Homo sapiens: one gene and its partners. The protein of the gene in region 3 interacts with the protein of the main gene of each other region in a pairwise test. Each region holds a gene or a part of one and is shown on either strand. Other genes may lie near its edges.

The links. The genes of interacting proteins can lie anywhere in the genome.
Region 1: the proteins of RPUSD4 (region 3) and HINFP interact in a two-hybrid assay, tested with the Homo sapiens proteins (one large-scale study listed by BioGRID).
Region 2: the proteins of RPUSD4 (region 3) and HSF1 interact in binary tests that used the Homo sapiens proteins (3 or more experiments, as listed by UniProt).

What each region holds. Positions count from the first base shown.
Region 1 is NC_000011.10:119,128,080-119,131,579, reverse strand, and holds part of HINFP (histone H4 transcription factor), read right to left. Parts: intron 3,230-3,500; exon of another isoform or gene 3,132-3,229; intron 925-3,131; coding exon of another isoform or gene 856-924; coding exon 626-855; intron 46-625; coding exon 1-45. UniProt on the Homo sapiens protein: Transcriptional repressor that binds to the consensus sequence 5'-CGGACGTT-3' and to the RB1 promoter. Transcriptional activator that promotes histone H4 gene transcription at the G1/S phase transition in conjunction with NPAT.
Region 2 is NC_000008.11:144,298,104-144,301,603, reverse strand, and holds part of HSF1 (heat shock factor protein 1), read right to left. Parts: intron 1-3,500. UniProt on the Homo sapiens protein: Functions as a stress-inducible and DNA-binding transcription factor that plays a central role in the transcriptional activation of the heat shock response (HSR), leading to the expression of a large class of molecular chaperones, heat shock proteins (HSPs), that protect cells from cellular insult damage.
Region 3 is NC_000011.10:126,201,651-126,205,150, forward strand, and holds the end of RPUSD4 (pseudouridylate synthase RPUSD4, mitochondrial), read right to left. Parts: intron 2,679-3,500; coding exon 2,581-2,678; intron 2,008-2,580; coding exon 1,768-2,007; 3' UTR 446-1,767; downstream 1-445. UniProt on the Homo sapiens protein: Catalyzes uridine to pseudouridine isomerization (pseudouridylation) of different mitochondrial RNA substrates. Acts on position 1397 in 16S mitochondrial ribosomal RNA (16S mt-rRNA).

The sequences.
Region 1 (3,500 bases), 7.1 Mb from region 3:
TGCTTCCACATGCCGATAAAACCACTCAGGATTGTCGAAGGAATTCTGTGCCAGGGGCAACTTGGGGTGAGGACTGAGGGTGGGTAGAGGGACTCACCCCTATGTGCCCGAAGAATTCTTGGCTCTCTCCCAAATTAACTTGATGGGGATGGGAAATTTTGAGGAAAGGCACTGCACAGAAATGGAGGAGTGGCCGGGTGCGGTTGCTAAACCCTGTAATCCCAGCACTTTGAGAGGCTGAGGCAGGAGAATCACTTGAGGCCAAGAGTTCGAGACCGGCCTGGGCAACACACCCAGACCTTGTCTCTACAAAAAATTTAGAAGTTAGCAGGGCATGGTGGTACATGCCTGTAGTCCTAGCTACTTGGGAGGCTGAGGTGGGAGGATTGCTTGAGCCCAGGAGTTCAAGGTTACAGTGAGCTATGATTGTACCACTGCACTCTAGCCTGGGCTTCAGATCAAGAGCCTGTGTGTAAAAAATAAACAAATTTTAAAAGAGCAAAAGAAATGGAAGAGAGATACTAGCAGGAATCTTGGAAATATAAGGCATCCCTGAAAGGGACAAGGCATCAGAGTTAAGACCCCCAGCTTCCTTCCACCCCAATTACTGGCACTGCCTGCTGACCTCACAGTGCTCCCACAGACACAGGAAGTGGTCAGGGATATCAGGGATGACGTTCCGGCTCTGGAAGTCCAGGATGCAGGGGCCAAGGTCAGCCTGGCTTTGCAAGGCCTGCAGCCCCCACTGTTTCAGCTTGGTGTGGTAGCAGTGGAAGTAGACATGGCGGATGAGGTCAGCAGAACTGTCCAGAGAACAAAAGCCACATTCCTGCCACAAGCAGGAGAATTCTTCCTCTGTAGAAAGGGGTTTAAAAGGAAGAGTCTGACACTTTCCAAGGCTCAGGTCACCTTCCACCTGCAGCACTAAACAGAGAGTGAGGAGGCTGGACTCGTGAGGAGGCTGGACTCTAACCAAATTACCAGGGTTCATTTAGCAAATACCAGTATTTAATGACCATAAATTGTGTGCCAGTTAGAGGGACTATAACAAGTAAAAAGTGTCCCACTCCTTGCCCTCACATAGCTTTCAGTCAGGGAGAAAGCATATTCATCAAATAATCAGATCTATAAATATAAAACTGCAACCAGTGATGAGTGTTACAAAGCGGGGATATACATGGTGCTATAAAAGCATTAAACAGAGGTCATTTGACATGGTGTTCTGAGAAACGTCCCCATGTTGAACTCTGAAGTACGATGGATGAGTATCTGTAAATAGGTGAAGAAGTGTGGTCTAGGCAGAGGTGAGAGTGTGTGCAAGGCCTATGCCAGAAACAGACAGCAGAAATGGCCGGCACGCAAGTCCTCTGACTTGAGTTTCTGCAGTTCCTGATGAAGATGCTGCCTCTCGATCTGACACCTCCCACTTCTCCTTGTAAAACCACCACTCCTCCTTCCCCTCATGTTTTGCTCAAGATCTGCCTTCTCCAAGAAGGCCCCATCAACTCTTCCAATCCATTTCCTATCTCTCTAGCATCCCTAAGCACTGTATTTTCAGCGCTTTATATAAGTTAACTTGTTTTGAAACACAGATACTTTAGAAAATATAATCATTCCCCAATTTTGCCTTTGTATAAATATGACTTGAATTTTGAAACTATCAATTATGGTTCATAGTCATCAGACTTAAAACAGAATTTGGGGTGGGAGAAGGAGAGCTGCCTCCATATTTCCTGTAGAATAGAGTTTTTCAGACTGTGTTGTGACCCACTAGTGGGTTAGGAAATCAGTTCAGTGAACTATCAACCACATTTTGGGCCGGGTGCGGTGGCTCACGCCTGTAATCCCAGCACTTTGGGAGGCCGAGGCAGACAGATCACGAGGTCAGGAGATCGAGACCATCCTGGCTAACACAGTCAAACCCCGTCTCTACTAAAAAATACAAAAAAAAATTAGCTGGGCTTGGTGGTGGGCGCCTGTAGTCCCAGCTATTTGGGAGGCTGAGGCAGGAGAGTGGCATGAACCCGGGAGGCGGACCTTGCAGTGAGCGGAGATCGAGCCACTGCACTCCCACAAAAAAAAAAAAAAAGAAAAGAAAAATGTATTCCTGCCAGATGCAGTGGCTTATGCTTATAGTCCCAGCTGCTCAGCATGCTGAGGCAGGAGGATCACTTGAGGCCAAGAGTTTAAGATCAACCTGGTAACATAGCAAGACTCTGTCTCTAAAAAAAAAGTGGCTTTGGTCGGGCGCAGTGGCTCACGCCTGTAATCCCAACACTTTGGGAGGCCGAGGCAGGCAGATCACAAGGTCAGGAGTTTGGGACCAGCCTGGCCAATATGGTGAAATCCTGTCTCTACTAAAAATACAAAAATTACCCGGGCGTGGTGGCGGGCACCTGTAATCTCAGCTACTTGGGAGGCTGAAGCAGGAGAATCACTTGAACCCGGGAGGCGGAGGTTGCAATTAGCCGAGATCATGCCATTGCACTCTAGCCTGAGCAACAGAGTAAGACTCCATCTTACTCTGAAAAAAAGTTTTTTTTTTCCTTTTTCTTTTAAATCCTGCCACACTTATTAGTACCGTGACTTTGGGCAAGTTATTTTATTCCTCTGTGCCTCCGTTTCCTTATTTGTAAAATGGGTATAATAATAGTGCCTATCCCATCCTGGCTAACACAGTGAAACCCCGTCTCTACTAAAAATACAAAAAAAAATTAGCTGGGCATAGTGGCATGTGCCTGTAATCCCAGCTACTCGGGAGGCTGAGGCAGTAGAATTGCTTGAACCTGGGAGGTGGAGGTTGCAGTGAGCTGAGATCGCACCACCACACTCCAGCCTGGCGACAGAGCAAGACTCCATCTAAAAATAATAATAATAAATAATAATAATAATAGTGCCTATCTCATAGGCTCTTTGGGAAATAGTGCTTTAATGTAGGTTTAAAAAAGTACTGGCCGGGCATGGTGGCTCACGTCTATAATCCCAGCACTTTGGGAGGCTGAGGCGGGCGGATCACCTGAGGTCAGGAGTTCAAGACCAGGCTGGCCAACAGGGGCATCCTGGCTAACATGGTGAAAGCCTGTCTCTACTAAAAATACAAAAAAAAATTAGACGGGCGTAGTGGCACGCACCTGTAATCCCAGCTACTCGGGAGGCTGAGGCAGAAGAATCGCTTGAACCGAGGAGGCAGAGGTTGCAGTGAGCCGAGATTGCACCACTGCACTACAGCCTGGGCAACAAGAATGAGACTCCATCTCAAAAAAAAAATAAAGTACCCAGCAATACTTAACACACAGTAGGTACTATAGAATACAGTTCACTATTGTTATTGTTTTCAGATTGGATTTTATTAAAATCCCAGTTATTTGCTATTGATAAAAGGCATACCTAAAACATAAGTCAGACAAAGGTTAAAAAGTGAGAGATGGGGCCAGGTGCGGTGGCTCACGCCTGTAATCCCAGCACTTTGGGAGGCCGAGGTGGGCGGATCATGAGATCAA
Region 2 (3,500 bases), on a different chromosome or scaffold from region 3:
TGAGCCACCGCGCCCGGCCTCTTCTGGAGCTTTTAAGATTTTCTCTTCACCAGCCTGTTCCAGCACTTTGATTATATAATGTACCTTGATATGGTTTTGGTTTTATCCTGCTTAAGACTGATATTCTTGGATTTGTGAGCTTACAGCTTTTCAAAAATTTGGGAAAAATTTTGGCCATAATTTTTTTTTTGAGACAGGGCTCTGTTGCCCAGGCTGGAGTGCAGTGGTACGATCATGGCTCACTGCAGCCTCCACCTCCTGCACTCAGGTGATCCTCCCGCCTCAGCCTCCCGAGTAGTTGGGACCACAGGCAGGCACTACCACGCCCGGCTAATTTTTGTATTATTTATAGAGACAGGGTCTTGCTATGTTGCCCAGGCTGGTCTTGAACTCCTGGGCTCAAGCGATCCACCCATGTCAGCCTCCCAGAGTGCTGGGATTTCGGGCAGGAGCCACCGTGTCCAGCCTTTTGGTCATATTTCTGTATTCTCTTCCCCACTGTTTTCTGGAACCTCAAATACGTTAGACCACATGATATTATGTCCTTGAAGCTCGGCTAAGTTTTTGCAGTCCTTTTTCTCCCTGTACATCACTGTGGACAGTTTCCATTGCTTTTAGTTCAGGAATCTTTTCTTCTGAAGTTTCTAATGTTTTGTTAAACCGCTCCGGTGACTCTGAAGAACCACCTTTTTACTTTAGAATACATGCCCTACACCAGTGTCCCCCATCATTAACATCCTGCCTTTGTGTGGTACAGTTGTCTCAAGAACATTAGACACATTGTTAACTAGGACCCACATTCTAATCAGATTCCTTAGCTTTTTACCCAATCCTTCCTCTGCTCCAGGACATCATCCAAAATCCATCCAGTTGTCACATCTTCTTCAGTCCCACTGACTCTGGCACCTTTCAGACTTGCCTAGTTTTTGAGAACCTTGACAATTTTGAGGACTCGTCAAACAGTTTGTGGAATGTCTCTCAATTTGGATTTGTTTGATGTTTTTTCATCATTAGCTGGGGTTACGTATGTTTTTGGGAGGAAGATCAAAGAGGTAGAGTGCTGTTCTCATCATCCTATCAAGAGTACACAACAGGCCGGGCGCGGTGGCTGACGCGCCCAACACTTTGGGAGGCCAAGGTGGGCGGATCACGAGGTCAGGAGATTGAGACCATCCTGGCTAACACGGTGAAACCCCATCTCTACTAAAAATACAACAAAATTAGCCGGGCGAGGTGGCGGGTGCCTGTAGTCCCAGCTTCGTGGGAGGCTGAGGCAGGAGAATTGCTTGGACCTGGGAGGTGGAGGTTGCAGTGAGCCGAGATTGTGCCACTGCACTCCAGCCTGGCAACAGAGCGAGACTCCGTCTCAAAAAAAAAAAAAAAAAAAAAAAGAGTACACAACAGTGATACGCATGTCACTGCTGATGGTGAGCATGGTCCCTGGTGAGGCTGTGTTGCTGGAGGTCTCCACTGGAAAGCTGCTCCTCCTGCTTCTGTGCTCTGCTCTTTGGAAGAGGGTCACTAGGTAAAGCCCAGGCTTCTGGAGTGAGGAGTTAAGCATCACCTCCTCGAAGGGGAACTATCTCAGTAAACAATGTGGAATTCTTCTACTTGGGAGATTAGTTCCAGTGACATTTTGTCCAACTTGCTTCTTTTCTGTATCTTCCATTTCTCAGTCATGTTTTCTTATTTTTTGAGACGGGGTCTCGCTCTGTCACCCAGGCTGGAGTGCAGTGGCACGATCTTGGCTCACTGCAAGCTCCACCTCCCGGGTCCAAGCAATTCTCCTGCCTCAGCCTCTGGAGGAGCTGGGACTACAGGTGCCCGCCACCACGCCCGGCTAATTTTTTGTATTTTTAGTAGAGACGGGGTTTCACCATGTTAGCCAGGATGGTCTTGATCTCCTGACCTCGTGATCCACCCGCCTCGGCCTCCCAGAGTGCTGGGATTACAGGTGTGAGCCACCACGCCCAGCCCTCAGTCACATTTTTGTGTTATTTCTTTGAGCACAGGGAACATTTTTATAATTGTTTACTGTCTTTGTTGGCTAATCCTATCAAAACTGGGCCTGCTACTGGACCCCCTCCAGTGACAAGTCCATTTTTCTGCTTTGGCTTGTCTGCCCATGACTGATTAGATTCTGGACGTGAATTTTTTTTTTTTTTTTTAGAAGGAGTCTTGCTCTGTTGCCCAGGCTGAAGTGCAGTGATGCGATCTCGGCTCACTGCAACCTCTGCCTCCCGGGCTCATGTGGTTCTCTTGCCTCAGCCTCCCAAGTAGCTGGGACCACAGGCGCCCATCACCACACATGGCTAATTTTTTGTAGTAGAGACGGCGTTTCACCATATTGGCCAGGCTGGTCTTGAACTCCTGACCTCAGATAATCCGCCTGCTTCGGCCTCCCAAAGTGCTGGGATTACAGGTGTGAGCCACTTCGCCTGGCTTCCTTCTCTCAAGAGTGCTGTGTGTACTCCGTGCTAGCAGGCAGTGGTGTTTCCAGGGCTTGCCTTGCACTTGTTTCCACGGCATTGGAGTGGCCTTTCCTCTGCAGCTTATTCTGCGCCACTTCCAAGCTGTGTTTCCTCTAAGGTGTCATGAAAGCTCCTTGTATTTAAAGTGGCTTCTATACTCTGGCTGGTGGGAACTGAAATAACCACGGCCCTGTGTGAGTCCTGCTCATCTGTCCCCTTACACTTACTCTTCCCCTTCAAGTTGCTCTTGGTCCAGCTCCACGAGGTTTCACTGTGTGCACCAGCAAATCGGATCCAACCCAAGATGCAAGCGGGCTCACGCGCAGATTGCTGGAGCTCTTTGTTTTGGGCGTAACTCCTTCCTTTCTGGTACCACACCCCACACATTCTAGCTGCCTCAGCTGCCCCAAAGTCTGGGTTTGTTGGGTTCTCTGCACGTGAGTCTGCAAATTCCCTCCACATAAAAAGCCTGGACAATTTTGTGGTTTACCTCAGTCCTCGCCGGTTTTTTCTTTTCTTTCTTTTTTTTTTTTTGAGACAGTTTCTCGCTCTGTGGCTGGAGCGCAGCGGCGCAATCTCGGCTCACTGCAACCTCTGTATCCCAGGTTCAAGTGATTCTCCTGCCTCAGCCTCCCGAGTAGCTGGGATTACAGGCACGCACCACCACGCCTGGCTATTTTTTTTTTTTTTGTATTTTTAGTAGAGACGGGGTTTCACCATGTTGGTCAGGCTGGTCTTGAACTGCTGACCTCAGGTGATCCAACCGCCTCAGCCTCCCGAAGTGCTGGGATTACAGCCGTGAGCCACCGTGCCCGGCCCTAGTTTTGTAACGTCTGAACATTTTCAGCGGCTTCTTATGCCTTAAGGGTTAAATCCAAGTTGAACATGTCAGGCAACCCCTACCTTAGGGGCCATTATGAATTTCACAGGGTCTGCTGGTGAACCCATCAGAGAACCCAGTGTCTCTCTCATCTTCCTGCCTCAGTGGAACAAGGTCCCTCCTCTGCTGACCACAGGCACCTCTTGGAG
Region 3 (3,500 bases):
GGCTGGAGTGCAGTGGCACAATCATGGCTCACTACAGTCTCAACCTCCTGGGCTCAGGTGATCCTCCTAGCTCAGCCTCCTGAGTAGCTGGGACCACAGGTGTGCGTGTGCCAACACACCCAGCTAATTTTTGTATTTTTTGTAGCAACAGGGTTTCACCACGTTGCCCAGGCTGGTCTCGAATTCCTGGGCTGAGGTGATCCGCCCGCCTCGGCCTTTTCGGCCTCTCAGAGTGCTGGGATTATAGGTGTGAGCCACCGCGCCCAGCCTCTTCTCCATTCTTGTGGGTATTCCTGTTCATCTGTTTCCCTGAATTAATGTCAATTATCACTATTTCCTAAGTGTCACATTCTTGTTCCTTTTTCTTGACTAGCATGGTTTACTAGAAACAGAAATAACAGCAAAAATATTTAGGTCTTATATAAACAAATATAGTCATCTCGTCTGTGCTTTCAAAGTTAAATTTATTATGCACAGTAATGGGTACCATGGAGACAGGGAAAGGGCTAGAAAGTGGCATCATCTATACAGAGGGAACATATAAAGACTGTCCCGGGGTGTACCCCCCTAACTGTGCTGTCACTCCAACTCTGTCAGAAAGAAAAAGTAGTGTGAGGTGTATTTGTTTGCAAGAAACAAGGTGGAAACTAGATGGACCAGCTGAGCAGGGAGGCCAAGGTCATTTCCATCTATCCCTAATGGTGTTCAGTATAGCCCTCTCCTTCCTGAGACCTAAGAACAGAAGATACGCTTCCACAACAGAGATTTTTGATTTTTTAATGGCAGCACTCTCATAACTACATTCACGGACCAACCAAAGCCATCTCCAAGCCTAGAAAGGATACATACTACACGCAGCGAAAATGCCAACCACTGATCCAGAATTTTCAAGATGGCACCTTTCCCCAAACTTCTATACCATTCATTAAACATAGACTGCAAACTGCTAGCCTGTAGACCAAATTCAACCTCTAAGTATTATTTGCTTAGGTGCCTAAGCATCTTTAAAAATTTGATTTAGTTGGCAATACACTGGGAGGTTTCACATAAATATCTAGGTTTCCAGCTTCTCTGAAGAAATGAGAAAATCCATTCCCACATGGCAACAACCAGCTGGAGCTAACAGCTGTTAGACAGCATGCCGCTCCCCGCTACTGCCTTACACCCAGCCAGCTTCATGTGTGCATGTTATCTGCCTGCCATTCACATCGGTTCTCCTTGCTCAGCAAATGTCCCACCTCAACCTCACACTCAATACCCTTATACAGGTTCCCTAATCAGAGTTCAGTAGGGCACCCACACTATAGCTGGGCAATCCCTGGATGCTGTGATATTTGTTAACCATTATGTTCTTTCCAACCACGGGAACCTTCCTAAGAGCTCAAGAGCTTCACTGCTGGATAAAAACAGTTCCTGATCCCGGATTCTGACCTTTAGTTTTCCTTTTCCAGTCACTGCCCCAGTCTGCCTGGCCCTGGGCTCTGTTCCATATTGGCAATGAGAGCCCACGGCAGGGAGACTTCCAGCAGGCTTTTCCACAGTGCAGCCAAACTATCAGTAAATAGACTTTGTTCTCCATTAAAAGCCCTGTAGCAGCTGAGTTGCTTTACCTTATCCCACCTGGCTCTTACGCAGTCTGTTCCAAGTGAGAAGTTAGCAGAGTCCTGTAAACAAAGAACAGTTCAGGGGCCAACCTGCGCTCCCAGGTGCCAGGATGCTCTCAGGGTCTTCACTGTGCTCCCAGGTGCCAGGGTGCTCCCATGGTCTTCACTGTGCTCCCAGACACTTGGCTTCATTGTTCTCATTTTGATCCTCATTTGGCATCTCTAAACGCAGGCGGTGCAGGGAATGCACAAAGAAGCGAGGAAGTTTGCAGACCAAGTTGAGTTCCTCCTTCCCGGACCCCAGGGCAGGCAGGATCAGCTGCCGGGCGTGCAGGTGAAGGGGGATGTAGCGGGCCTTCGACTGTTCTAGCCCCAGCTTCTTCAGGGTGCCCACAGACAGCTTCTATACAAAGAAAGGACAGACCCTTGAGAGCAAGGCCAACAGTCCACCCTTGACGAACATGCAAGGTCAGGGCACTTCTACTTACAGGGAACCAAAACTAACCCCCTGGAAGACACAGTAATGGAGAGTCTGCTTCAGTGGCATGTCTAAGAACGGCTCAGAACTCAGGTAAGGGAAAAATGACCACACCAAGACATTCTTTTTGGCCAGTGCTTTTTGGCCTAACAAGAGAATGGGCTGTGGTATAAGGATGAAAAGGCTTTCCCTGCGGTTTTTTAGTAGCACCATGAAAAGCTGCTCCCAGCCTTCAGAAACACCCCTCCCCTTGTCCACAGCCTCCCAACAAAATCTGAATAAACAAATGTAACAGTAAGCTTTTCACTAACAGATCCTGCAGTTCCACAAGGACAGTAACCAACTGCTCCTAAATTTCTCTAAAATCAAGATAATGAGCTTGGTATCATGTCTGAAGACAATCAGTAGGCTTTGTTGTAACTCATTTCAGAGTTTTAAGAAAAGGAACGCCTAAGTTCTCTCCCGTATCTGCTGCACATTGGGTCAAATTAGTATTACCTGGGGGGCCAACCTATTCCAGTCTGAGTACTTGTGATCACCAAGGATTGGACAATCCAATCCAAAAGACAAGTGAACTCGAAGCTGATGTTTTATTCCTTAAAAGAGAGAGAGAGAGAAAGAGAGAAAACTCGTGAGGAGCTACAGAAACAATACCAGTATTGGCATCTGCTTCAAATCGTGTTACATCAAAGTGCAGTAAACTGGCCAAGTCCCAACTATAATAAAGTATAACGAATAATATAGCAAACTATAAGTTATGTAGCACCAGCCAGTTTAGGAAGTAAACGCCGTAAATACTCTAAGTACCTCTCCCCACCACAATTCCCTCTTTCCACCATAGATAACCATTATCATGAACTTGCCGTCTACCATTACCCCAACTTTTTAGTAATTTTACTACATAAGTAGTATTGATTTGCACATTATTTGAATTGTAGTAACATATACATAAAATTTCCTGGTTTAACCACTGGCATTATACTAAATGCCAAGTCAGTGACATTAGGTGTATTCACACTGTTTTTGCAACCACCACCACCATCCATCTCTAGAACTTTCTCAGCTTCCCAAACTGAAACTCTGGACCCATTAAACAACAATTCCCTATTTATCTCCCCTCCTTTACCCTACCCTAAGATTTTGGCAACCACCATCTACTTTCTGTCTCTATACATCTGACTCTTCTAGGTACCTCACATGAGTGGAATCATATAATATTTGCCCTTTTGTGCCTGGCTTATTTTACTTAGCATAATGTTTTCAAGGTGCATCCATATTGTAGCATGTGTCAGAATTTCCCTTCCTTTAATTCTTTTAAAGCTGAAAATAACATTCTATTTTATGTGTATGCTACATTTTGTTTCTCCATTCATCCCCCAATGGTCACTGGGATTATCTTCACATTTTGTTGCTGTGAA